Homo sapiens: one gene and its partners. The protein of the gene in region 1 purifies or fractionates together with the protein of each later gene. This does not show direct contact. Each region holds a gene or a part of one and is shown on either strand. Other genes may lie near its edges.

Region 1 (7,925 bases):
GCAATCCTCTTCCACGGGTTTTCAAACTAAGCAGTTGGGCATTTAAACTAATTTTATCTCCCTCTACTGGTTTCATTATTTTATGCATCCTGCATTAGGAATACCCTAAAGTCACATTTGTCCAACCCATGGCCCAGGACGGCTTTGAATGCAGCCCAACACAAATTCCTAAACTTTCTTAAAACATGATGAGATTTTTTTGCGATTTTTTTTTAAACTCATCACCTGTCGTTATTGTTAGTATATTTTGTGTGTGGCCCAAGACAATACTTCTTCTTCTAATGTGGCCCAGGGAAGCCAAAATATTGGACACCCCTGCAAGGAACAGGGTAGGAAAGTTATGGTAGTCACCAAGTCTGTTAGATGAATTTTTTTTTTTTTTTTTTTTTTTGAGATGGAGTTTTGCCCTGTCACCAGACTGGAGTGCAGTGGCGCGATCTCGGCTCACTGAAACCTCTGCCTCCTGGGTTCAAGCAATTCTCCTGCGTTCAAGCAATTCTCCTGCCTCAGCCTCCTGATTTATATTTATATTAGATTAAATTTATCTTTGTCTGCAGTAGCCGCTATTGCAGATTTCACTACTGAAAGTCACTACCGACATTCAAAAACTAGCACAATTAGGAGTATTGCAAAATTTTGCCTTCAGTTCCACTTCCAATAACCTGGCATTTAGCTTCCTTATGCTTTTTCCTAAATAGCACCTGGTTTGCCCCTTCAACAATTTACCCTGGCTCCCCTTTACTTAATGGAATTCTACCTTCATTATGAAGTAATTCCGCTAAATGCTTATAATAACTACCATTTGTTAGTGCCAAATTTATAGATGAAGAAACCAAAGGTAAGAGAGTTTAAGTAACTTGCTCAAATTCATATTATTAAAAGCAAGGTTTGAACTCAGAGTTGTCTGGTCCTAAAGCTACCTTGTGTCTTATAGGTGGCAGCTGGTATGCAGACAGAACTGAATATAGAGTTATTTGCCACAGCTGTTGGAGAGGATGGGGCCAAGGGATCAGCACACATCTCTCACAATATCGAGATTATGACAGAGCATGAGGTTCTGTTCCTACCTGTGGAAGCAAATATCCTTTAAAGTTCAACTTGAGTAATCATATATAGTGCAGAAATTACACGAGTGAGGAAAACATGGAAGTCAAAATGCATCTCTACTTTATTAATTCTATCTTCAAAATCAGAGTTAAATTTATTAAGACAAAGAGCATCTTCATTCATCTTTGAAAGCACCTAGCCAAATCTAAAAAAATACCTGACACATAGTATATGTGCAGTAACTTCAGATTGAATAAATGTAAATGTTATTGGCTATCTACGGAATATCAGACAGAATAATAAAACAGCAAGTATCTATCACAAAAAAATTATAATTTTATGGAAGGATAGGAAATACCTTATTATTATAAAGGTTGGGTATTCACTGAATTATGCATGCATTCCTCCTTATCAGTGTCTTCAGCCAAACAGATATTAGATAGATATCAAGAACCTATTACCTCCAAGGTACTGTATAAAATAGTTTATCATATATAAAAATGGATAATTGGACTCTGTCTTAAAAGGTATTATATAATTTGTAGCAGAAATAAAGTCTTCACATTTTATTTCTATTTTGTACTTTCTCCAGTGGCATGAATTGTGTGCTGCTTGTGTTACAGTTCTCTATTTATTTGATTTTTGAGCTGGATCTTATAGAATGTGAAAACTTGATTGACGGGAACTTTAAGTAAAAATAATGAACAAAACCATGGCAACAGGAAAGCTCCAGGTGTTTGGGATGATTGGCAGGGAGTTCAACTTGCCAAAAGCTTGAGTATTAGGAATATAGTGGGAAAGTAGGTTGGAGTCAAGTTATGAAAGATCTTAAATCCTTGGCTTGAATTTTATTATTTAAGCAGCAGTGAACCACTGCAGATTCCTGACCCTGTGGGTGACATGATCAGCATATCTTTATTAAGATGAATCCAGGGTTATTGTGCAGGACATGTCAAAGGGGAACAACTGGATGTGTAAAAGTACCATTAGAAGTCTACCTGAATGGGCCATGTGTGAGGACAAGAACTGGGAGTGGGGGAACAGTCAACATAAAAGAGGGACATGAATGAAAGACATGGTGGGGGAAGGAAACTGCAAAATCTGAGGTAGAAGCCATTGATGGATGGAAGAAAGAGGACATCGAGTTCAACTTCAAAGTTTTGGGCTGAGGTAATGAATCATGTATATGTAATATTAGATCTCAACTGAGAAGTCAGAATTGGAGATATAATAATTTTAAGCATCGTTTACACAGAGGTGATGGCTGAATGTATGGGCAAGGAACAGAAATCTGGAGTCGGTTTAGGGAGCAGGAGGAAGAAGAGCCAGTGGAGACAAAAGCAGCAATTAGAAAATGGTGAAATACTTCAAAAGCCTTAGGAAGAATTTCAAGGAAAAGACGGACACAATTGACGGATGCTATTGAGATGTCAAAGAAAATTCAGATTTAAAGTGTTAAATTTGGTTGGGATAAAAACTAAATTGCAAAAGGTAAAGAATGACTGTATTAAGAAAGCAGAAACATTAGTTATGGATATTCTTTCAAGAAAATTTATTAAAGGAAAGAGCAAGAGAATATGTTACTCAAGGATGCAACAGAATATAGGAAGGATTTTCAGTTTAATGTAGACCTACATGTTTGTAGGCTGAAGAGAGTGGAGCAGAAGATATATATTAAAAATATGAATGAGTAGAAGTGATTGAAACTGCAATATCCAAAACAGGGCAAAAGAATAATAAAAAACAGAGCTGAAGGGTTAGTCTTGGCAAGGGAGAAGCTGAAGATAGCTGATGATTCAGATATTCCGAGGTGAAGGAGAAAGTTAAAGGAACTTGTGTCAGATAGCACTGATGTCAATAAATGAAGTTTAGTTCATTTGTTCATTTATGCTTTCAAAGATGCCGAAACGCCTGCCTTTATGTAGCTTACATTCCAGTGGGAGGACAGACAATACATAAAGTAAGTAAACCATAAACAATGATGGCAGTAAGTACAATGGAGCAAAATATAAAATAGGAAAGGAAAGTCCTCACTGGGAAAGTCTCTCTCCCTTCCTCTCACCTTCCTCCCCTCCCTTTTTCTCTTCCTTTGAGTAATGACAGGGTTTTTCCATTGTGACAGAAGGAAACTAGCCAAAGAACTAGTTTTTTCCTCTGGTAACTAAATCAAGTGCCCTTACCCTCTCCACACAGGTTATTAGATGCAAATACCTGAGTCACTGCTGCTGATCATAGCAATGAAATCATTTGTATTTATAATAAATTTTCTATTTCCCTGCTTATAGATTAGAGAGAACCTGTCAGACACAGATAAAGGGCAAAAAATCTTATCAGATCTTTTATCTACTTACTTACAGTGTCAACAATGATCTGTCCCTCTCCCCACCAAAAAAAAAAAAAAAAAGCATGAAATCTGATGTAGATATGGTTTGGGGCTTGACCATACTGATGGCTCCTTATAGAAAGCCAGTCACAGTTAGGAGAGAAATGTACACTAGGGAGAACAGAAGACATTCTAGACATTGGCATATCCATCCTCTAACCCCCAAGCCTGAGCATGCAGAATTTGCATTGGATAGACAGTTACCTAAAATTGAACTGATGTTGCCAGAGAAGAAATTCTATGATTCTAAAATGTTATTTAGGTTTATATATGCAAATAATTTAGTCATGAAAAGCACAGCCCTTAACAAGTATTTTACCTGTTTTAACAAGCAGCAATTATGATAAACGACCAAAAGACTTTCCCCAGGGAAAAGAAAATCCAATGGTCCAGAGAACTTCTACAATTTATTCCTCCACACTTGGAGTCTTCATGTCTCGTAAAGTTTCTCCACATTAGGTACAGTAAGTAATAAATGGGAATTTGATTGTCAAGCATTCAAATTTGAGGTATTAGACCCCAGGTTTCTTCCCCTCTTCTTATAGTCAGAAACCTATAAGCCACCTGGCCTGAATGAATGAAAATATTTGTTTAGGCCGGGCCCGGTGGCTCACACCTGTAATCCCAGCACTTTGGGAGGCCGAGGTGGGTGGATCACAAGGTCAGGAGATCGAGACCATCCTGGCTAACTTGGTGAAACCCCGTCTCTACTAAACAATAGAAAAAATCAGCCAAGTGTGGTGGCGGGTGCCTGTAGTCCCAGCTACTCTGGAGGCTGAGGCAGGAGAATGGCGTGAACCCAGGAAGCGGAGCTTGCAGTGAGCCAAGATCGTGCCACTGCACTCCAGCCTGGGAGACAGAGCGAGACTCTGTCTCAAAAAAAAAAAAAAAGAAAATATTTGTTTAAATAACTATACTAGTTGCTTCTTTATATATATTATAAAATGTAATGCTCATGCAAGGTAGAATTCAGTGCTTTATACCCTAATCTTGGAAGACACATCCCATTATATTTACTGTATTCTGTTCACTAGAAGCCAGTCACTAGGTCCGACCCCATACTCAAGGGGAAGGGATACACAAGGGCAACACTGCCAGGCCCTATGTAAGAGTTGGGCTCAGTGACTGTTACACAATGTGTACTGTGTTCTAAAAACATACCAGGGCTGCTTGGATCCCAAAAACCTCAGAAATAAAGAGAAAGGACTTGAATATATGGTGATACTACCTTTAAGAACCTTAGCCCCATCTCAAACTTAGGAGCTTAAATTGTGAGGAATGGGGGTGGATTGCAGACAGTAACTGTAAGCCAATGTGGTTTCTTCATTAAGCTTCTGCTCACAACCTCCCTCTCTTTCTGAAGACTAATCTGGCCTGAAAAGGCTGCATTGAGCAGGCTCATCATTTACAGCTAAGTGAATAGAGTCCTATATACAGTCCTGTACCTACCAACAGATACCATTGCTTTCCTGGGCACTGTCCTAGATCTCTGCTGGAGATTTGCTAGATATCTTTAGAATGAGATATAATTTATGACATTTGCCATTGAGAAACAATTTAATACCAAATATACAAAGCACCTAGCTTCCAGCCAGTGAATTTCAAAATTTTTAAGCATATTTTCTCTAAGTGGATGGATATATACATTTTTAAAAATAAGCCTAAATGTTTTACTCCCAATACATCATTCAAGAGCCTTTTTTTTTTTTTTCAATGGAGTCTGGCTCTGTTGCCCAGACTGGAGTGCAGTGGCACAATCTCAGCTCACTGCAATCTCAAAAGGCTTTTCTTTATGGTACTACAGAATTTCTATAGGTAACTTACTTCACAATATGCAAGAGATATTAGTCATTAGATGGTTTTTATATTAAGGATTATATACAGCCAATGGCTGACTAAGGCAATGAATACTGACTTAATGACTAGAAATTTGCCTGGCTTAAAATTTACTTTATAATGCACCTATTGACCTTAAACTTTTAGAGTTAAAGAGTTTCAAGTATTTTGACCAAAAATTGTAACTTGGCTAGGTTCTGTACATGTCACTTTATCATAAAAGTTCTCCTTCTCTTCGATTAGTATAACACTTAGCAGACAGAAACATCTTTACATTCCCTAGCACTATCAGGCTTTTGAGTTATAAATGGTGGCAAAGCTACGGGAAAACAGCAACTTTTAACATAAGAGTAATTATTGATGATGTATACATCTCGAATGCCCTCCTGGAACTTGTTTTGGTTTGGAAACCATCAAAAATGTTACTAGAAAGTGACATTTATGTTCTGATGAGCAACTCTAAGAAGGATATTGAATCAACTTCTGTTCTCATAAAAAATTAAATTTTTTTTCAAGAATTAACTCCTCTCCCTGGTGGCAGGAATAGCTGCCTAAACAACACTGACTCCTTGGAAAGCACCTAGAATGCATTATCCTGCCTGCCTATTCTCTTGCCTTCATAGTTATGCCTTCAGAAACTCTATGCCAAAATTCACTTATTTATTCTGCCCAACAAATAACACCACTGCATCCCTTACTCACTTCAGTGATTGTGTTATGCTCAAGAACATTAAGACTTGTGGTTTGGGACACAAATCGGCAAGCCACAAGGACTGCATATCTGAGCCTAGAAGAAAATGGTGGCCCCACAACACAGTAACTTGGTTGCAATGACCAAATTCAGACAGAAACCATAGTTTTAAATCTTTGGGATTAACAACAACAAAAAAGATAAAAAGCAAAACTGTCTCAAGAAGATACAGAACATCTAAACAGGCCTGTAACAAGAAGTATGATTTAGTCATTTATAAACTTCCCCAAAAGAAAAGCCCAGACCCAGAGGTATCTGTCAATATCTTTTCCTAGAACATTCCCCAAATCCTTACCATGAAGATATACAGTAGACAATCCGTTGAACATGGGTTTTAACCACTTGGCTCCACTGTTATACAGATTTTTTTTTACTATTATTATTTTGGAGATGGAGTCTCACTGTGTTGCCCAGGCTGGAATGCTGGTGGCACTGTCTTGGCTAACTGCAATCTCCGCCTGCCGGGTTCAAGTGATTCTCCTGTCTCAGCCTCCTGAGTAGCTGGGATTACAAGCGCCTGCCACCACGCCCAGCTAGTTTTTTGTATTTTTAGTAGAGATGAGGTTTCACCATGTTGGCCAGGCTGGTCTGGAACTCCTGACCTTGTGATCCGCCTGCCTCGGCCTCCCACAGTGGTGGGATTACAGGCGTGAGCCACTGCACGCAGCCCAGATATTTTCAATAAATATATTGGAAAAATTTTTGGAGATCTGAAACAATGAGAAAAGTTTCAGATGAAAAAAATTAGGAAAAAAGTAGTTATATCATGAATGCACAAAATATATGTAGATACTAGACTATTTTATCATTTACTGCCATAAAATACACGCAAATCTATTATCAACATTAACACACACAAATACAGATCATACATGGTGCAATTCACAGTTTTGGGAGAAATGTAAAATAATGTAAAGATGCAGTATTAAATCATAGCTGCATAAAATGAACTGTAATACACAGTATGTTACTGAAATAATTTCACAGCCACCTCCTGTTGCTATGCAGTGAGCTCAAGTGTTGTGCGTATGCACTTAAAATGCTGTGACACTAATCACCTGTGCATGAACAACTCATCGCCCCAGTAAACTGCATATCACAGTGCTCCCAAAAAGCAGAGAAAAGTCATGACATTACAAGAAAAAGCTGATGCTTGATAAGTACCACAGATTGAGGTCTGCGGCTGTGGTTGCCTGCCAATCCAGACAGACAATTCATTTTATAAACAGATGACATACACTTATAGTATTGATAAACACAGTAAATATATTTTCTCTTCCTTATGATTTTCTAAGTAACATTTTCTTTTCTCTAGCTTACTTTAAGAATACAGTATACAATATATATAATACATCAGTCAGGCTCCCAGTCAATAACAGGCTACTAGTACTTAAGACTTTGGGGAATCAAAAGTTATATGCAGATTTTTGACTGTGCGGGGCGTAGGGGTGGGTCAGTGCCCCTACCACCTGCATTTTTCAAGTGTCAACTATATATATGTATGTGTACATACACATACACATACACACACACACACACACACACACACACACACACACACGAGTGTATTAATTCCTCAGAAGCCCAGCCAGGCATCTTAGCTTGGCTACTTTTTAATTAGAAACAACTATTTTATTCAGAAAAGTATAAACAGTTAGCAATTAGAATCTTCTTATATACAGACATAACTTGCAGAAGGTTAAGTCTGAGGACGCTGTTCTGGGTAATTTTTACAGTCCTTTTTAGCTCTAAGATCCATGACACTGCATTTTTATGGCCAAAGGGCAATCAATTATGCACCTGGTTGTCTCAATAGGCAGTAAAACCTAATATAAATAAATGACAAATCATCTGCCATAAAAAAATACGAAAAACTTTTGAAATGTTAATTTCAACTCCAATGAAACA
Region 2 (7,888 bases), on another chromosome or scaffold:
GTTCTGTGGCCCACCTCCCTGCCAAAAGCTTGCTGGGCTCTCTTGCTCGGTATGTGGACCAGGGACTGGATCACTGTCCCAGCCAGGTGCTGACACCTGGCCTTTGCAGGGTGGCGGGTATGATCTCAACCTCTTCGCCAGCCCTCCTGACAGCAACTTCGTGTGCTCCGTCTGCCATGGGGTTCTCAAGAGGCCAGCAAGGTTGCCATGCAGCCACATCTTCTGCAAAAAGTGCATCCTCCGGTGGCTAGCCAGGTGCCAGCGGGTACCCAAGGGGCTGGGAGGGCAGGAGTGAGACTGGGGGCCATTGCTGTGGCCCAGAACAGAGGGGAAAGTCAGCCAAAAGACTCAGCCACCAAATCTCCCTAAACTAAAATGTGTGTACCCTCACTCAGTAGTGTCTGCAGACCCCGGCCCCACCCTCAGAGCTGAGAGCGCCCTGTAATATGCCCTAATGCCTCATCCAGCTAATGAAGGGACCACCTGGGTCACCGAGTGAGGGCTTGACCAGGGCTCCCTTCCCACTCCCAACACTCACCCCTACTCATGCCTCCTTCCAGACAAAAGACCTGTCCGTGCTGTAGGAAAGAGGTGAAAAGGAAAAAGGTTGTCCACATGAATAAACTCCGGAAAACCATTGGCCGCCTGGAAGTCAAGGTAGCTCAAAGTACCCACTCCCCTGACCCTCAACCCTTCTCACCCTTGTAGGGGTGGGGCAGGGCTAGGAGAGAAGGCAGGAGAATCCCATCTTCAGAGAGAAACAAGTGCAGCCTTGGGACGACCAGACATAGCTGAGTTTGGATCGTGGCTCTACTGCTTAGTTGCTGTGTGACTTTAGGCAAGTCACCTAACTTTTCCAAGCCCCTGGGTTAGAAAATGGAGATTTTAGAGGACTTTTAAAATGGAGATTACAGAGGATTTTTAGAGGATCAAGTGCCCAGTGTGCCTGCCACTACTCTCTAGTCCCCTAGTTTTACAGATGGGTAAACCGAGGTTAAAAAGGAAAGCCTGGCATCCATACCACTCACCAGACCAACCCAACTGTGTACCTTCCAGTTCCCCAAGACTCAGGCCTCACCCTCTCCCCTGGAACTTCTAGCTTCTTCCCACGTCTAGGCATTTGCCCCAGTGTTCTCTCCACCAACTCACCAGAGTCAGAAAAGCGTGGGAGGCTCCCGGTTCCCTGGTTCCTGGCGAATGGAAAGCCAGGGGTGGGGGATTCCGTGGGTGTCCTGCCCGGTTTCTTCACACGTTCTCCTTCACCCTCAGTGCAAGAACGCCGACGCTGGCTGCATAGTGACATGCCCCCTGGCCCATCGCAAGGGGCACCAGGACTCATGCCCCTTTGAGCTAACGGCCTGCCCCAACGAGGGCTGCACCTCGCAGGTGCCGCGTGGGACCCTGGCAGAGCACCGGCAGCATTGCCAGCAAGGGTCCCAGCAGCGCTGCCCCCTGGGCTGCGGGGCCACCCTGGACCCGGCCGAGCGTGCTCGCCACAACTGCTACCGGGAGCTGCACAACGCCTGGAGCGTGCGCCAGGAGCGCCGTCGGCCCCTGCTGCTGTCCCTCCTGCGGCGTGTGCGCTGGCTGGACCAAGCCACCAGTGTCGTTCGTAGAGAGCTGGCGGAGCTCAGCAACTTCCTGGAGGAAGACACCGCTCTGCTGGAGGGTGCCCCACAGGAGGAGGCCGAGGCTGCCCCAGAAGGCAACGTTGGGGCTGAGGTGGTGGGGGAGCCCAGGGCCAACATACCTTGTAAATAGGTAAATAAAAGCAGACCCCCGGCCTGCCTGCCTCTGTGCCTGCGGCCCTCACAACTGTCACCGGTGCATCCCTGCTGCCCTCTCCAGGCATTTGCCTGCTCTCTTTCATCTTTTCTTTTTCAAAGGAAGGAGGCCGGGCGTGGGTGGCTCACGCCTGTAATCCCAGCACTTTGGGAGGCTGAGGTGGGTGGATCACCTGAGGTCAGGAGTTCGAGACCAACCTGACCAACATGGCGACACCCCGTCTCTACTAAAAATACAAAAATTAGCTGGGCGTGGTGGCAGGCGCCTGTAGTCCCAGCTACTCGGGAGGCTGAGGCAGGAGAATGGTGTGAACCCGGGAGGTGGAGGTTGCAGTGAGCCAAGATCACACCACTTCACTCCAGCCTGGGCGACAAGAGTGAGACTCCGTCTCATAAAAATAAATCAATAAATAGGCCAGGCGCGGTGGCTCACGCCTATAATCCCAGCACTTTGGGAGGCCGAGGCAGGCGGATCACAAGGTCAGGAGATCAAGACCATCCTGGCTAACACAGTGAAATCCCGTCTTTACTAAAAAATACAAAAAATTAGTCAGGCATGGTGGCGGGCGCCTGTAGCCCCAGCTACTCGCGAGGCTGAGGTAGGAGAATGGCCTGAACCCGGGAGGCGGAGCTTCCAGTGAGCGGAAACCGTGCCACTGCACTCCAGCCTGGGCGACAGAGCAAGATTCCGTCTCAAAAAACGAGGCCGGGCGCGGGGGCTCACGCCTGTAATCCCAGCACTTTGGGAGGCCGAGGTGGGCCGATCACGAGGTCAGGAGATTGAGACCATCCTGGATAACACAGTGAAACCCCGTCTCTACTAAAAAATACAAAAAATTAGCCAGACGTGGTGGCAGGCGCCTGTAGTCCCAGCTACTCGGGAGGCTGAGGCAGGAGAATGGTGTGAACCCGGGAGGCGGAGCTTGCAGTGAGCCGAGATCACGCCACTGCATTCCAGCCTGGGCAACAGACCCAGACTGTCTCAAAAAATAAATAAATAAAAATAAATAAATAAGGGGAATACAAGAATGGCTACTCCATAGACAGAATACCTTTTTCTTCTTTTTTGAGACTGGGTCTTGCTCTGGCACCCAGGCTGGAGTGCAGTCACGTGATTACGGCTCACTGCAGCCTCAACCTCCCTGGGCTCAAGCAATCCTCCCACCTCAGCCTCCTGAGTAGCTGGGACTACAGGCACGCACCACGACTGCCGGCTAATTTTTGTGTTTATTTTAGAGATGGGGTTTCACTGTGTTATCCAGACTGGTCTCAAACTTCTGGGCTCAAGTGATCCTCCTGCCTCCAAAGTGTTGGGATCACAGGTGTGAGCCACCATGATGGCCTACTTTCTTTCCCTCAAATATCTCTCCTCTCAGAGATTTTCCCTGATCATACTTCTCAGTTCTCCTTCTCAGTTACTTTCGTTTTTTCATTTTTTTCTTTTCTATTTTTTGAGATAGGGTCTCTGTTGCCCAGGCTGGAGTGCAGAGGCCCAATCACAGCTCACTAGAAACTCAGCTTCCCAGGCTCAAGCAGCCCTCTCACCTCAGCCTCCAGAGTAGCTGGGACTACAGGCACACCACCACCCCTACTAAATTTTCTGTGTGTGTGTGTGTGTATGTGGAGACAGGGTCTCGCCATGATGCCCAGACTGGCCCAGTTACTTTTTTTTTTTTCTCTGAGACAGTCTTGCTCTATCGCCCAGGCTGGAGTGCAGTGACGTTGCGATCTTGGCTCACTGCAACCTCCGCCTCCGGGTTCAAGCGATTCTCCTACCTCAGCCTCCCGAGTAGCTGGGATTACAGGCACCCGCCACCACACCAGGCTAATTTTTGTATTTTTAGCAGAGACTGGGTTTCACCATGCTGGCCAGGCTGGTCTCGAACTCCTGACCTCGTGATCCACCGGCCTCGGCCACCCAAAGTGCTAGGATTACAGGCGTGAGCCATCGCGCCCGGCCTGGCTGTTACTTTCTACCAGCTTCAGAGCCAGTAGCACAAATGGCTCAAAACCTTGAACTCAGAGTAAAAGCTAACTCCTCGCCACGGCGCACAGGCAACTGCATGCCCTCTGCCCTCTGCACCCACTCCCTGCAGCCACCCGGCTTGTTGCTACTCAATGCTTGGCACCCCCAGTCCTAGGCCTGTGCCCTGGCTGTTCTCAACACCATTCGTTCCACAGGGCTCCCTGCTTCGCGAACTTGTGTCTGCTCAGGCGTCACCTTCTCAATACAGCCTCCTCCTTCCTCCCTTCCGCTCCCTCCCTTCTGTTTTTTTTTCTTTCTTTCTTTCTTTTTTTCTGAGACGGAGTCTCACGCTGTCACCCAGGCTGGAGTCCAGTGGCGCAATCTCAGCTCACTGCAGCCTCCGCCTCCGGGGTTCAAGCGATTCTCCTGCCTCAGCCTCCCAAGTAGCTGGGATTACAGGCATGTGCCACCACGCCCAGCTAATTTTTTTTTTCTGTTTTTAGTAGAGACGGGGTTTCTCCACGTTGGTCAGGCTGGTCTCGAACTTCCGACCTCAGGTGATCCACCCGCCTCGGCCTCCCAAAGTGCTGGGACTACTGGCGTGAGCCAACGCGCCCGGCCCTCCTCCTTTTTCCATCGCGCTCAGCAACTATCACTCGTCGCCCGTTCTGTTTCTTCTCTGGTGTCCGCCAAGTGCCGATTACAGTGCTTTGCACACAGAAGGTGCTCAATACATGAATGCCTTTGAGATTACCCGGTTTATTCATTTACCTACGTTATTTATCAAGAGCCACACTGCGAGCCCAGGGGCAGGGTCAGGTTGACGGCTCTACGCACGGACCGCACCCGACAGCTGGTACCCCCACATCCCAGAACGCCGAAAAGCAGGAGTAAACGCTGGCTACAAATGCCTTTTTATACTGGTATCAAAGAGCCAGGCCACCAGCGATGCCACATCCGCCGGTCTACCCCCACCGACCCGCGAAGCACCCTCACAGCTCACGGCCCTCCCTCCAGGCCGGAAACGTCTCCGCCCGCTTCCGCTTCCCGATGCAGCCGCCACTGCCCGAAGCAAAGATGGCGCCAAGTGCGCGGCGCCGGCGGGGACGTCACAGTGGTCGCGCGCGGTGACGCCATCGCAGCGCGCCGGGAGTGTGGCGTTCTGTGAAGAGTTCGGTGCTAACCTCCCTCACGCGGCGGTGGCTGCCGGGACCCTAGCAGGTTTCAGCTGGAGCGGCGGCGGCGGCAACATGGCAGAGACCGCGGCCGGAGTGGGCCGCTTCAAGACCAAGTGAGCCCGGAGCTCTGGGGCCGTGCGGGGAGGGAGCTGGGTTTGCAGCCGGCATAGCGGAGGCGCGCGTGGGGTGGGCACGCATTGGGGTCCGTGGAGGCGAGAGGCTGTGTGTGCGCCGGCCCGCGGGGTCGCGGAGGCTGCGGTGATACTAGGCGGGAGAGCCGGCCCCGGCTGCTCTCGGGGAGGACGGCGATCGGAGCCCGGCCGCCGGGAGCAGCAGCGTGGGCTCATCGAGAAGCCGGCTATGGGGTGGAGTGGGGACCAGAAGTCCCGATGAGGGGAGGAGAGGGCTGAGCCTAGGTCGGGGCTGGTCCCGGGAGGCGGCGGGGGCGAAGAACCACCTCTGAGCAGTCGGCCTGGGGACCTTTCATCCGCGATCCGTCTTCTCCAGGGAGCAGGGAGAATGCAGGAGAGGGGCGGGTCCGCAGAAGCCCAGGAGGCCCTGAGTGCTGTGCCCCGTCACTCCCCAAGCCTTTGCCGAACAGCAGTGCTGGTGCCCCCGCCCTGGCAGCGCAGCCTCATGGGATTATCGTTTCCACTGGCGGCTGTGGGGCTTTGGTTGTGCCAAGCACTGGTAAAGGAAAGTCCCAGGCTGGCAGCACCGTCGTGGGAGGGTCAACTGGGTGCGGGGGCTGAGGGGCCGCTTTCGTTTTGGCAGTCAGGCTTCCAGAAGCGCAGTGAGCCAGGCCTTGACATCTGGGAAGAGAAGCCCAGGCCGCGTACAGGGAATAGGGGGAAGATAGGAAACCCGTCCCAGAGGCTGGGACAGGAGCAGTGGGGTGCACTGTGGGCCATGAGAAGGAAAGAAAGCAGAGGCAAGGGTGGCAGAGGCTCTTCTGGGCAAGGTCTGGGAGGTGTGTGGGCAGAAGGGAGGGGCTAACGCAGGGCAGTGACATCTTCAGTTATGTTCTGAAAGGTACCTGGCAGCAGGGTTAAGAGGTAGGTAGGGGAGGCCGGGCGCGGTGGCTCACGCCTGTAATCCCAGCGCTTTTGGAGGCCGAAGCGGGCGGATCACGAGGTCAGGAGATTGAGACCACGGTGAAACCCCGTCTCTACTAAAAATACAAAAAATTAGCTGGGCGCAGTGGCGGGCACCTGTAGTCCCAGCTACTCGGAGAGGCTGAGGCAGGAGAATGGCGTGAACCCGGGAGGTGGAGCTTGCAGTGAGCTGAGATCGTGCCACTGCACTCCAGCCTGGGCTGGAGACCCCTTCTCAGATCGAGACCCCTTCTCAAAAAATAAATAAGTAAAAAGAGGTAGGTAGGGGGTCCAGTGAAGAGGCCAGAGTGGCTGGCCAGAGACTGTGATGGGCTGGACCAGGTGGAGGCAGTGGAGAAGGAAGGAGAAGGGGCACGAGTGAGGTCACAGAAATGACAGCTGCTCGTGGGACCCGGGCTCTGGGCAAGCCTGGGGATGGAGAGAGGAGTCAGGGAGGGGAAGAGGTATGCCAGACCTCAGGGATGAAGACACTGGGAGGATGTGCTCTGGGCTGGCTACCCAGGCCTGGCCACCCACCGCCGGCAGGGGTGTTCCCAAGGAGCCCCCTGGCTCTCACTGGGGAATCCCTGGAAGCCCTGGGCTGTTGGGCTGACTCCACCTGACACAGGCCCACCCCCTACTGCCTCAGGGATCACCAGCCAGCTGCGGGTCTCTACTTCTCAGTGACGACGGTAGCTACAGCCCCCTGCAGTACTGCTGGTTCCACCCCATGCCCTGTCCCTGCTGTTGCCCAGAAACTCAAGGGCAGGGGCCATTGGGGTCACTTGGAGAGGAGCACCTAGCACAGGGCGGGGCCCTGGGGACTGAGGGGGTGGGTGGTGCTCATTCGCCTCCCGCTCTCCTTCCAGCTATGCTGTGGAGCGCAAAATTGAGCCTTTCTACAAGGGCGGAAAAGCACAGGTACCAGCCTGGGGAAGGGCAGTGGGGCGGGCAGCCAGAGGCCGCGGGGGGTGCTGAATGTTGCCTGGCTGAGACCTCTCTGTCCCCAGCTGGACCAGACTGGCCAGCACCTCTTCTGCGTCTGTGGCACCAGAGTCAACATTCTGGAAGTGGCCTCGGGGGCCGTGCTGCGGAGTCTGGAGCAGGTGAGGGCAGCCTGGGTGGGTGAGGGGCAAGTGGAGAGGGCAGCCCACTCACACCGTGCTCGGCACACCACTCTTTCTCCTAGGAGGACCAGGAGGACATCACTGCCTTTGACCTCAGCCCTGACAACGAGGTATGTGGGGCGGGGCCTGGAGGGGACCCGCTCCAGCGCCTCCCTCCCAGACTGAGTCCAGGAAGATGTGAGCAGGGTATTGCTGCCCCTCTGCTGACCTGTACCCTCCCCCAGGTGCTGGTGACAGCCAGTCGGGCATTGCTGCTGGCTCAGTGGGCCTGGCAAGAGGGCAGCGTTACCCGCCTGTGGAAGGCGATACACACGGCCCCCGTGGCCACCATGGCCTTCGACCCCACCTCCACTCTGCTAGCCACAGGTAGGGCCCTGCCGTGCAGGTGGGTCGTGGGCACAGATGCAGGGGCTTTGGGCATTCCACCCCCTCACCTTGCTTCCCCGCAGGTGGCTGTGATGGGGCCGTGCGCGTCTGGGACATCGTGCGGCACTACGGGACACACCACTTCCGAGGCTCGCCCGGTGTCGTGCAGTGAGTTGGAAGGTGGAGGGGGAGGGCAGAGGCACCACCCAGGCTGCACAGCTCACCCATCCTGTCCCGTCCGCCCACAGCCTAGTGGCCTTCCACCCGGACCCTACACGCCTGCTGCTCTTCTCCTCGGCCACGGATGCCGCCATCCGCGTGTGGTCACTGCAGGACCGGTCATGCCTGGCTGTGCTGACTGCCCACTACAGCG
Region 3 (7,810 bases), on another chromosome or scaffold:
TAGCTCAGCCCTGGTCCTTCCCTCTCCTTTCTGGACCCCGTCCCTCCTGAACAAGTGACAGGGAGCACTGGCTGCCAATGCAGCAGGCCCTCCCTTCACATGTTTCGCGCTGACAGCCCGCAGTCCCCGCCTAGCAGGCACACTGTCTTCCTGGAGCTGCCTGGAACCTCCCTTCCCCAGGGCGGGGTTGGGGGGCCCATCATCCCTTCCTCTTCCTCCAGTCCCCATTCAAGTCTTGACTCCAGCACAACACCCCCAAGTCCCCGCGGGCACTGACGGGCACGGACTCACGGGCACTGACCCACCCGCGGGCACTGACTCACTTGTGGGCACTGACCCACTTGGACCTGTTCTGGCCACCCTCCAACTCCGCTGCCCTTGGCAAAGCACCCTCCTCCCACTGGAGTCCAGCCGGCCCTCCCTGCTCCTCAGACCCAGGGCTCTCATGGCCACAACTCCCACCTACCCAGCAGACCCCAACCCCTCCAAAGGCAGCCCGTTCTGGCCGCCTGGCTCCCTCCACAGGCAGGGCCTTGTGTGGGCGCCTTCCCCACCCAGGGACCCCAACTGCCGCCCACCTCCGCACGCAGCCACCTCATCACTGCACCTCTCCTCCCCGGCGGAGAGGAGGCCTCACAAGGGTGGGCAGTGTGTCTCAGTGCCAAGTTCAGAGCCCTGCACACAGCAGGCGCTAAGCAACTGCAGCAAGGAGGGGCCCAGGCTGGGGCACCCGGGTGACGGAGACACCATAGCTGCGGGCAACTCTGCCTTCATGTGATCCTGACCAGCCTCCCCCCACAGCCCAGACGCGGGACACCCCGAATCAGGGCAGCATCTCTGCCAGGGCTCCAGGCACAGCTAAGGCCATCCCACAGGCAGTCCGTGGGGCCGGGCTCAGTCTCATCTCATCTCGTCTCGTCTGGGGGACTGAGTCCGGATGCGGGGCTGCACGGCCCAGCTCAGTGCCTGAAAAAGCACCAAGTACCACCCACCAGCGGGCCCCGAAGCAGGACTCAGACCACTCGCTGCGCCCACTCACAGCCCGGTCCCTCCCTCCACCCTTGCCAAATGCTCTCCCGGCATCTCCCTGCACGAGGCCAAGGGACTATCGCCCACACCAAACTCCACAGAAGCTGGTGGGGCCACAGACAACTCCCAACCCCCTTAGGGCCCAAGGTGCTGCTATTCCCGTCACGGAGTGCCCGCACACCTCCCTGCCCCCTATGCACCCCTACCCACCGCCCTCTGCCCTGCCCTGGGCACACAGGCAGCTCAGACAGCCGAGGCAGGGACCCTGCTTAAGGGGCAGGGTCAACACCCAAGCACTCGAGGGTGCTCAAACCGGGGCCCTGAGACGCAGGCCTGCTCTCTGTACCTCCCACTCCTCGGCCCTGGGGACCCCACATCCAGATCCCTCTGGGGGCAAGAGATTCCCACAGGAGTGCCCCGCCACAGCCCACCACACCTCAGAGACCTACTTGGCCAGCCGTGAGTACTTCACTTTTCCTGTCTTCTCCTCCTCGGCCGGAGTGGCTTTTCCCCGGATGGTGGTCTCTCTGTCGCCCTCCTGGTCCTCCTCCTCCTCCTCTTCCTCCTCCCGCTGCAACAGGTCTGCTTTCCAGCCCGCAGGGGGCTTCAGCCGCAAGCCCTCGGGGGGCGTGTCACACTGCCACATGCACAGCACTCCGTCCTGGCTGAGTGAGTACAGCTGCAAGGGGAAGCACAGGGTCACCCCAGCCCCAGCCACACTGGCCCAGCTGCCACAACCCGGCACCTCCCTCCAGCTCAGATCCAGGGACCAGTGGCACCGACGGCCCCTCTGAACTCTGAGAACAATTCTCGATGGGCCGCCACAGCTGCCATCGGTCCCTAGATGCCCCCAGGCCACACGGGAACAGCCTGGGGGAACCGCAGGAAGAGGCCGCCTGCAGCCTGGGGCCTCCCTGAACTAGCCGCTTTTGGCCACCATCAGGCTAGGGAACTTGGCAAAGGGACATACGTCCAGGCTGTTGGATTCAAAGAAGCAGGCCACGATGGCATCCTTATGTCCCCCCAGTGCATAGTAGATGAGGTTGTCCCAGCGCTCGGCTCCGAACACCCAGGTGGACATGTCTTTGCTCCCAACCACAAAGCACCTGGAAAAGAGGGAGATGGCACCTCCTCAGGGCTTGGCCATAACAAAGCAGCCAGGTGCAAGCTCCAGAGGGCTGCACGGAGACCGCTACAGCCCCACGTGGTCTCAGAGTGAGCTGAGACGCCTCCAGGCACAGGAAGACACCCCGGCACAGCCCCTGCCCTGTCTGCCTTCCTCACACCTCCCAGACGCTGTCCCTGCCCTGTCTGCCTTCCTAACTCCTCCCAGACGCTGCCCGAGCCAACCACAGCATTCCCAGTTTCTGGGACAAACAGGTGAAAGGGCAGTGCAGGGGCAGGAGGCTCGGCCACAGCACACACTTCAGAGCCGCAAAGACTCGACCACAGCCACCCAGCCAGTCCTGATGGTGTGGGCAGCGCCCAGCCCCAAAGGAGGCCGAGATGCCATTGCGGAACGAAGCTGCAGGGCCCAAGGGGGTGACCTGTCCAAGGGGCCTCTCTCAAGCCCCGCTCCCCCGAAGCCTCTGAGGCCGCACCTGGAGTCATCCGTCCAGTCGATGCAGGTGGTCTCATCGTAGGGCCCAAAATAGGTCTTGTCCAGAACGAAGGCGTTGAACTCCCGCTTCTTCCCAGGGGCATGATACATCTGGGCAATGTTACCCTTTGTGACAACAAACTTCCTATGGAAGGAACGCGGACATAGTTGATATTCAAGACCAGCAATGGCCCTAAGGCCACTGTGGAGTCTCAGCCTGCACCCACCTGGGCCTTCTGGAGTCCCGCCTCCTGCAGGATGGAGGCCAAGGAGCAGAGGAAGCAAAAGTCAGGGAAGAAACAGCCCTGGAGGGAGGGCAGCCTGGCCGCACCAAGCCTTCTCCTCCAGAAAAGGGGGTCACCAATGCCAGAGCTTGGGCCGTGTGCCCAACCCAACGTCACAACCCGGGGCCCAGGGAAACGAGCTGGGCAGTGGGCCTCACCGTCGGCATGCACGGCCGAACCCTCCTGCCCCCAAGCTGTCCCCCTTACCTGCCATCAGGGGAGAAGGACACACTGTGCACAGAGCCCTTGAAGTGGAAGTGGTGCAGCACAGACCTGCAGACCAGGCTGACCAGCAGCGCATCGCCCCCTGCAGGACGCCAGAGGTCACCACCGCGCAGCTACCCCAGGGGCCACCCCAGATACATAGCACGGGAAAAACGGAGAAAGGTCTTTCTCGCGTCCACTGTGAGGAGTCAGGACTGAGAATGCCCAAGGGCCATGAGGCCCTGCCCTGCCACAGGTGATGCCACAGACACAGCCTGCGGCGGGGACGCAGCCTCGCCCATGACACCCTCATCCCCAATCCCCACCCGGGCCCCAACACGGAGGCGACTGGGGAGCGGATCATTTCAGACCCACACAGCCCTGAGTCCTCCTCACTGGTCCCCTCAGTACCCGCCCACATCAAGGGCAAGTACCTTCATCGACGATGATAGCGAGGCGGCCATCCGGGGACAGCCCCACGCACTTGACGTTGTACCGAGTGGCCAGGGGCAGCGTGTCAGATTTGTTGCTGATAAAGACAAAAACCACAGTGTGCTGTTGGTCCTCAAGTCACATGAGGGAGACAGGCCAGGCCTGGCCTGGGACCAGCGGCTCACCCTCCCCAAGTAGCGCCTCCAATCTTACTGGACCCCACAAGCCAGAGCTCATCTGTGGATACCCCCCACTCCTGAAAAAGAAATGACATTGTTGGCCGGGCACGGTGGCTCACGCCTATAATCCTAGTGCTTTGGGAGGCCAAGGCGGGCATATCATAAGGTCAGGAGTACGAGACCTGCCTGGTCAACATGGTGAAACCCCGTCTCTACTATAAAAACAAAAAACAAAAAATTGGACAGGCGCGGTGGCTCACACCTGTAATCCCGGCACTTTGAGAGGCCAAGGCGGGCGGATCACGAGGTCAGGAGATTGAGACCATCCTCACTAACACGGTGAAACCCCGTCTTTACTAAAAATACAAAAAATTAGCCGGGTGTGGTGGCGGGCGCCTGTAGTCCCGGCTATTCAGGAGGCTGAGGCAGGAGAATGGCGTAAACCCGGGAGGTGTAGCTTGCAGTGAGCCAAGGTTGCACCACTGCACTCCAGCCTGGGCGACAGGGCAAGACTCTGCCTCAAAACAAACAAACAAACAAAAAAACCCAAAAAATTAGCCAGGCGTGGTGGTGGGCGCCTGTAATACCAGCTACTCAAGAGGCTGACGCAGGAGAATCGCTTGAACCTGGGAGGCAGAGGTTGCAGTGAGCTGGGACCGCACCACTGCACTCCAGCCTAGGTGACAGAGCAAGACTCTGTCTCAAAAAAAAAAAGAAAAAGAAATGACGTTGTCCCTGGAGGAACTCTAGTGAAATGCATTAAAAGCCTTAAAAATGGGCTTTGGATACATCAATTCTGCTTCCAGGATGATATGATGAGAGGATTATTCCGCCTCAGTGTGACATCAAAATACCAGAAGCAAGCTAAGTGCCCAACAGGAATTAACCACCATGACAGTGCACCCATGTAACACTGTTGCTAGAAAAATGGAAAATAAGGGGCTACAGGAATCCCGCGGAGATGCTGCAGATAACGCTTACACTGCAACTGAGTGAGGCACACACATTCCAGCTTCCCCATAAGCAGCCGAGCTGTGTTTACACCATACTGTAAACAGTACGGCGTAGTCTACTAGCGTGTGCTGTAGTCTGTAAGCGTGCACTGTGCTCTATTCGTGTGAGTTGTAGTCTGTTCGTGTGTACTGTCGTCGAAGTGTGTACTTTATTGGTGTGCGCTGCAGTCTACTCATGTGTGCTGTAGTCTATCAGTGTGCACAAGCATTCTGTCTAAAGCAACAACGTGCATCCCTTAATTTAAAAACACTTTACTGCTAAAAAATGCTAACAATCATCTGAGCCTTCAGTGAGTCTTCATCTTTTTGCTGGCAGACAGTCTGCCTCGATGTGGATGGCTGCTGACCAGGCACAGTGGCAGCTGCTGAAAACGGGGTGGCCGTTGCCAATTCCTAACACAACAGTGAAGCTTGCCGTATCGATGGACTCTTCCTTTCACAAGATGTCTCTGTAGCATGTGATACTGTTTGATAGCATTTTACCCACAACAGACCTTCTTTCAAAACCGGAGTCAATCCTCACAAATGCTCCCAGCGTTTTATCAACTAAGTTGATGTCATATTCTAAATCCTTTGTTGTCATTTCAACAGTCTTTACAGCATCCTCACCAGAAGTAGATTCCATCTCAAGAAACCACTTGCTGGCCGGGCATGGTGGCTCACACCTGTAATCCCAGCACTTTGGGAGGCTGAGGCGGGTGGATCACCTGAGGTCAGGAGTTCTAGACCAGCCTGGCCAACAATGATGAAACTCCTTCTCTACTAAAAATACAAAAATTAGCTGGGCGTGGTGGTAGGCGCCTGTAATCCCAGCTACTTGGTAGGGGGGCCCGAGGCAGGAGAATTGCTTGAACCCAGGAGGTGGAGGTTGCAGTGAGCCAAGATCATGCCATAGCACTCCAGCCTGGGGGACAAGAGTGAGACATTGTCTCAAAAAAAAGAAAAGAAACCACTTGCTTTGCTCATCCACAAGCAGCAGCTCCTCATTCATTCAAGATTGATGGCAACATTGCGGCAATTCAGTCCCATTTCAGGCTCTGCTTTCATTTCGAATCCTCTTGCTATCTTTACTGCATCTGCAGTAACTTCTTCCACCAAAGTCTCGAACCCTTCAAAGTCATCCATGAGGCTTGATACTAAACTTCTGTCAGACTCCTGTTAATGTCGACACTTTGCCCTCATTGAATGAATCATGAAATGACAACTAGAATGGCGACTCCTTCCCAGAAAGCTTTTTATTGGCTTTTCCCAGATCCATTACAGGAATCACTATCTTTGGCAGCTAGAGCCTTATAAAATATATTTCTTAAATGGTAAGACTTGAAAGTTAAAGTTACTCCCGTAGGCTGAAGAAGAGATGTGGTGTTAGCAGGCATGAAGACAGCATCTCCTTATGCGTCTCCATTGGAGCTCATGGGTGACCAGGTACGTTGTCCAACAGCAGAAATATTTTGAAAGGAACCTTAGTGGGTTCAACAATGGGCTGGAAAGATTCAGGAAACCATGCTGTAAACAGATGTGCTGTCGTCCAGACTTTGCTGTTCCACTTATAGAGCACAGGCAGAGTAGCTTGGGCATCATTGTGAAGGGCATTAGGATTTTCAGAACAGTGAATTAGCACTGGCTTCAACTTAATGGCCCCAGCTGCATTAGCCCCTAATAAGAGAGTCAGCCTGTTGTTTGAAGCCAGACACTGACTTTTCTCTAGCTATGTAAGTCCTCGATGGCATCTTTTTCTTTTTTTTTAATTTATTTATTTTTAGATAGAGTCTTGCTCTGTTGCCCAGGCTGGAGTGTACTGGCACGATCTCAGCTCACTGCAACCTCTGCTTCCCAGGTTCCAGCAATTCTTCCACCTCAGCCTCCTGAGTAGCTGGCATTACAGGAATGTGCCACCATGCCTGGCTAATTTTTGTACTTTTAGTAGAGACGGGGTTTCACCATATTGGCCAGGCTGGTCTCAAGCTCCTGGCCTCAAATGATCTGCCTACCTTGGCTTCCCAAAGTGTTGGGATTACAGGCATGAGCCACTGCGCCTGGCCATCTTTTTCCAATAGAAGGCTGTTTTGTCTCCATTGAAATTTTGTGTTTAGTGTAGTCAGCTTCATCAATGATCTCAGCTAGATCTTCTGGATAACTTCCTGCAGCTTCTCCATAGCACTTGCTGCTTCGCTTTGCACTTTTATGTTGTAGAGATGGCTTCTTTCCTTAAACTTCATGAACCAACCTCTGCTAGCTTCCAACTTCTTTCCTGCAGCTTCCTCACCTCAGCCCTCACAGAACAGAGGACAGGTAGGGCCTTGCTGTGCATTAGGCTTTGACTTGCTTAAAGGAATGTTGTGGCTGGTTTGATCTTCTATCTGGATCACTCAAACTTTTATCCGTATCTGCAATAAGGCTATTTTGGCTTTCTTGTAATTTGTGTGTTCACTGGAGTAGCACTTTTAATTTCCTTCAAAAGCTTTTTCTTTGCATTCACAACTTGCCTGTTTGGTGGCAGAGACCTGGCTTTTGGCCTATTTCAGCTTTTGACATGCCTTCCTCACTAAGCTGAGTCCCTTCTAGCTTCTGATTTCAGGTGAGAGTTGTGTGACTCTTCCTTTCACATGAACACGTAGTGGCCACTGTAGGCCATTATTAACTGGCCTAATTTCAGCATTGTTTGTGTCAGGGAATAGGGAGACCCAAGTAGAGGAAGAGAGACGTGGGGGGGTGGGGAACAGCCGGTCGGTGGAGCAGGCACAGCACACACAGTGCTTACCGATTAAGCTCGCTGTCTTACATGGGCACGGATCACGGCACCCCAGAACAATCACGATAGCAACAGCAAAGATGATCACAAATCACCCTCACAGGTATAATAAACTTTGAAATATCACAAAATTACCAAAATGTGACACAGAGACATGAAGTGAGCCCCCACTGCTGGAAAAATGGCACCGACCAACTTTCTCCAAGCAGTGTTTCCACACACCTTCGCTTCGTGGTAAAACAGCATCCGCACAGAGCCAGAGTGCAACAAAGTGAAGCAAAGTGCAACAGCACACAGGAAGAAACCGCTAAACCCCA

Evidence for each region. Proteins that work in one complex are often made in the same cells at the same time.
Region 2: the proteins of WDR3 (region 1) and TBL3 purify together in Homo sapiens (affinity purification with mass spectrometry; 2 studies listed by BioGRID and IntAct, with this or other methods). This does not show direct contact.
Region 3: the proteins of WDR3 (region 1) and PWP2 purify together in Homo sapiens (affinity purification with mass spectrometry; 2 studies listed by BioGRID and IntAct, with this or other methods). This does not show direct contact.

Annotation. Positions count from the first base shown.
Region 1 is NC_000001.11:117,959,763-117,967,687, reverse strand, and holds the end of WDR3 (WD repeat-containing protein 3), read right to left. Parts: 3' UTR 3,890-7,925; coding exon of another isoform or gene 3,750-3,889; 3' UTR 1,145-3,749; downstream 1-1,144. Other genes in the region: SPAG17 (sperm-associated antigen 17), read left to right, coding at 935-1,079, 3,750-3,889. UniProt on the Homo sapiens protein: Part of the small subunit (SSU) processome, first precursor of the small eukaryotic ribosomal subunit.
Region 2 is NC_000016.10:1,967,165-1,975,052, forward strand, and holds the start of TBL3 (transducin beta-like protein 3), read left to right. Parts: upstream 1-4,888; 5' UTR 4,889-5,000; coding exon 5,001-5,041; intron 5,042-6,891; coding exon 6,892-6,943; intron 6,944-7,032; coding exon 7,033-7,128; intron 7,129-7,211; coding exon 7,212-7,259; intron 7,260-7,373; coding exon 7,374-7,515; intron 7,516-7,598; coding exon 7,599-7,683; intron 7,684-7,763; coding exon 7,764-7,888. Other genes in the region: RNF151 (RING finger protein 151), read left to right, coding at 83-255, 561-657, 1,270-1,761. UniProt on the Homo sapiens protein: Part of the small subunit (SSU) processome, first precursor of the small eukaryotic ribosomal subunit.
Region 3 is NC_000021.9:44,109,589-44,117,398, reverse strand, and holds part of PWP2 (periodic tryptophan protein 2 homolog), read right to left. Parts: intron 3,647-7,810; coding exon 3,552-3,646; intron 3,221-3,551; coding exon 3,121-3,220; intron 2,775-3,120; coding exon 2,631-2,774; intron 2,136-2,630; coding exon 2,000-2,135; intron 1,709-1,999; coding exon 1,479-1,708; intron 1-1,478. UniProt on the Homo sapiens protein: Part of the small subunit (SSU) processome, first precursor of the small eukaryotic ribosomal subunit.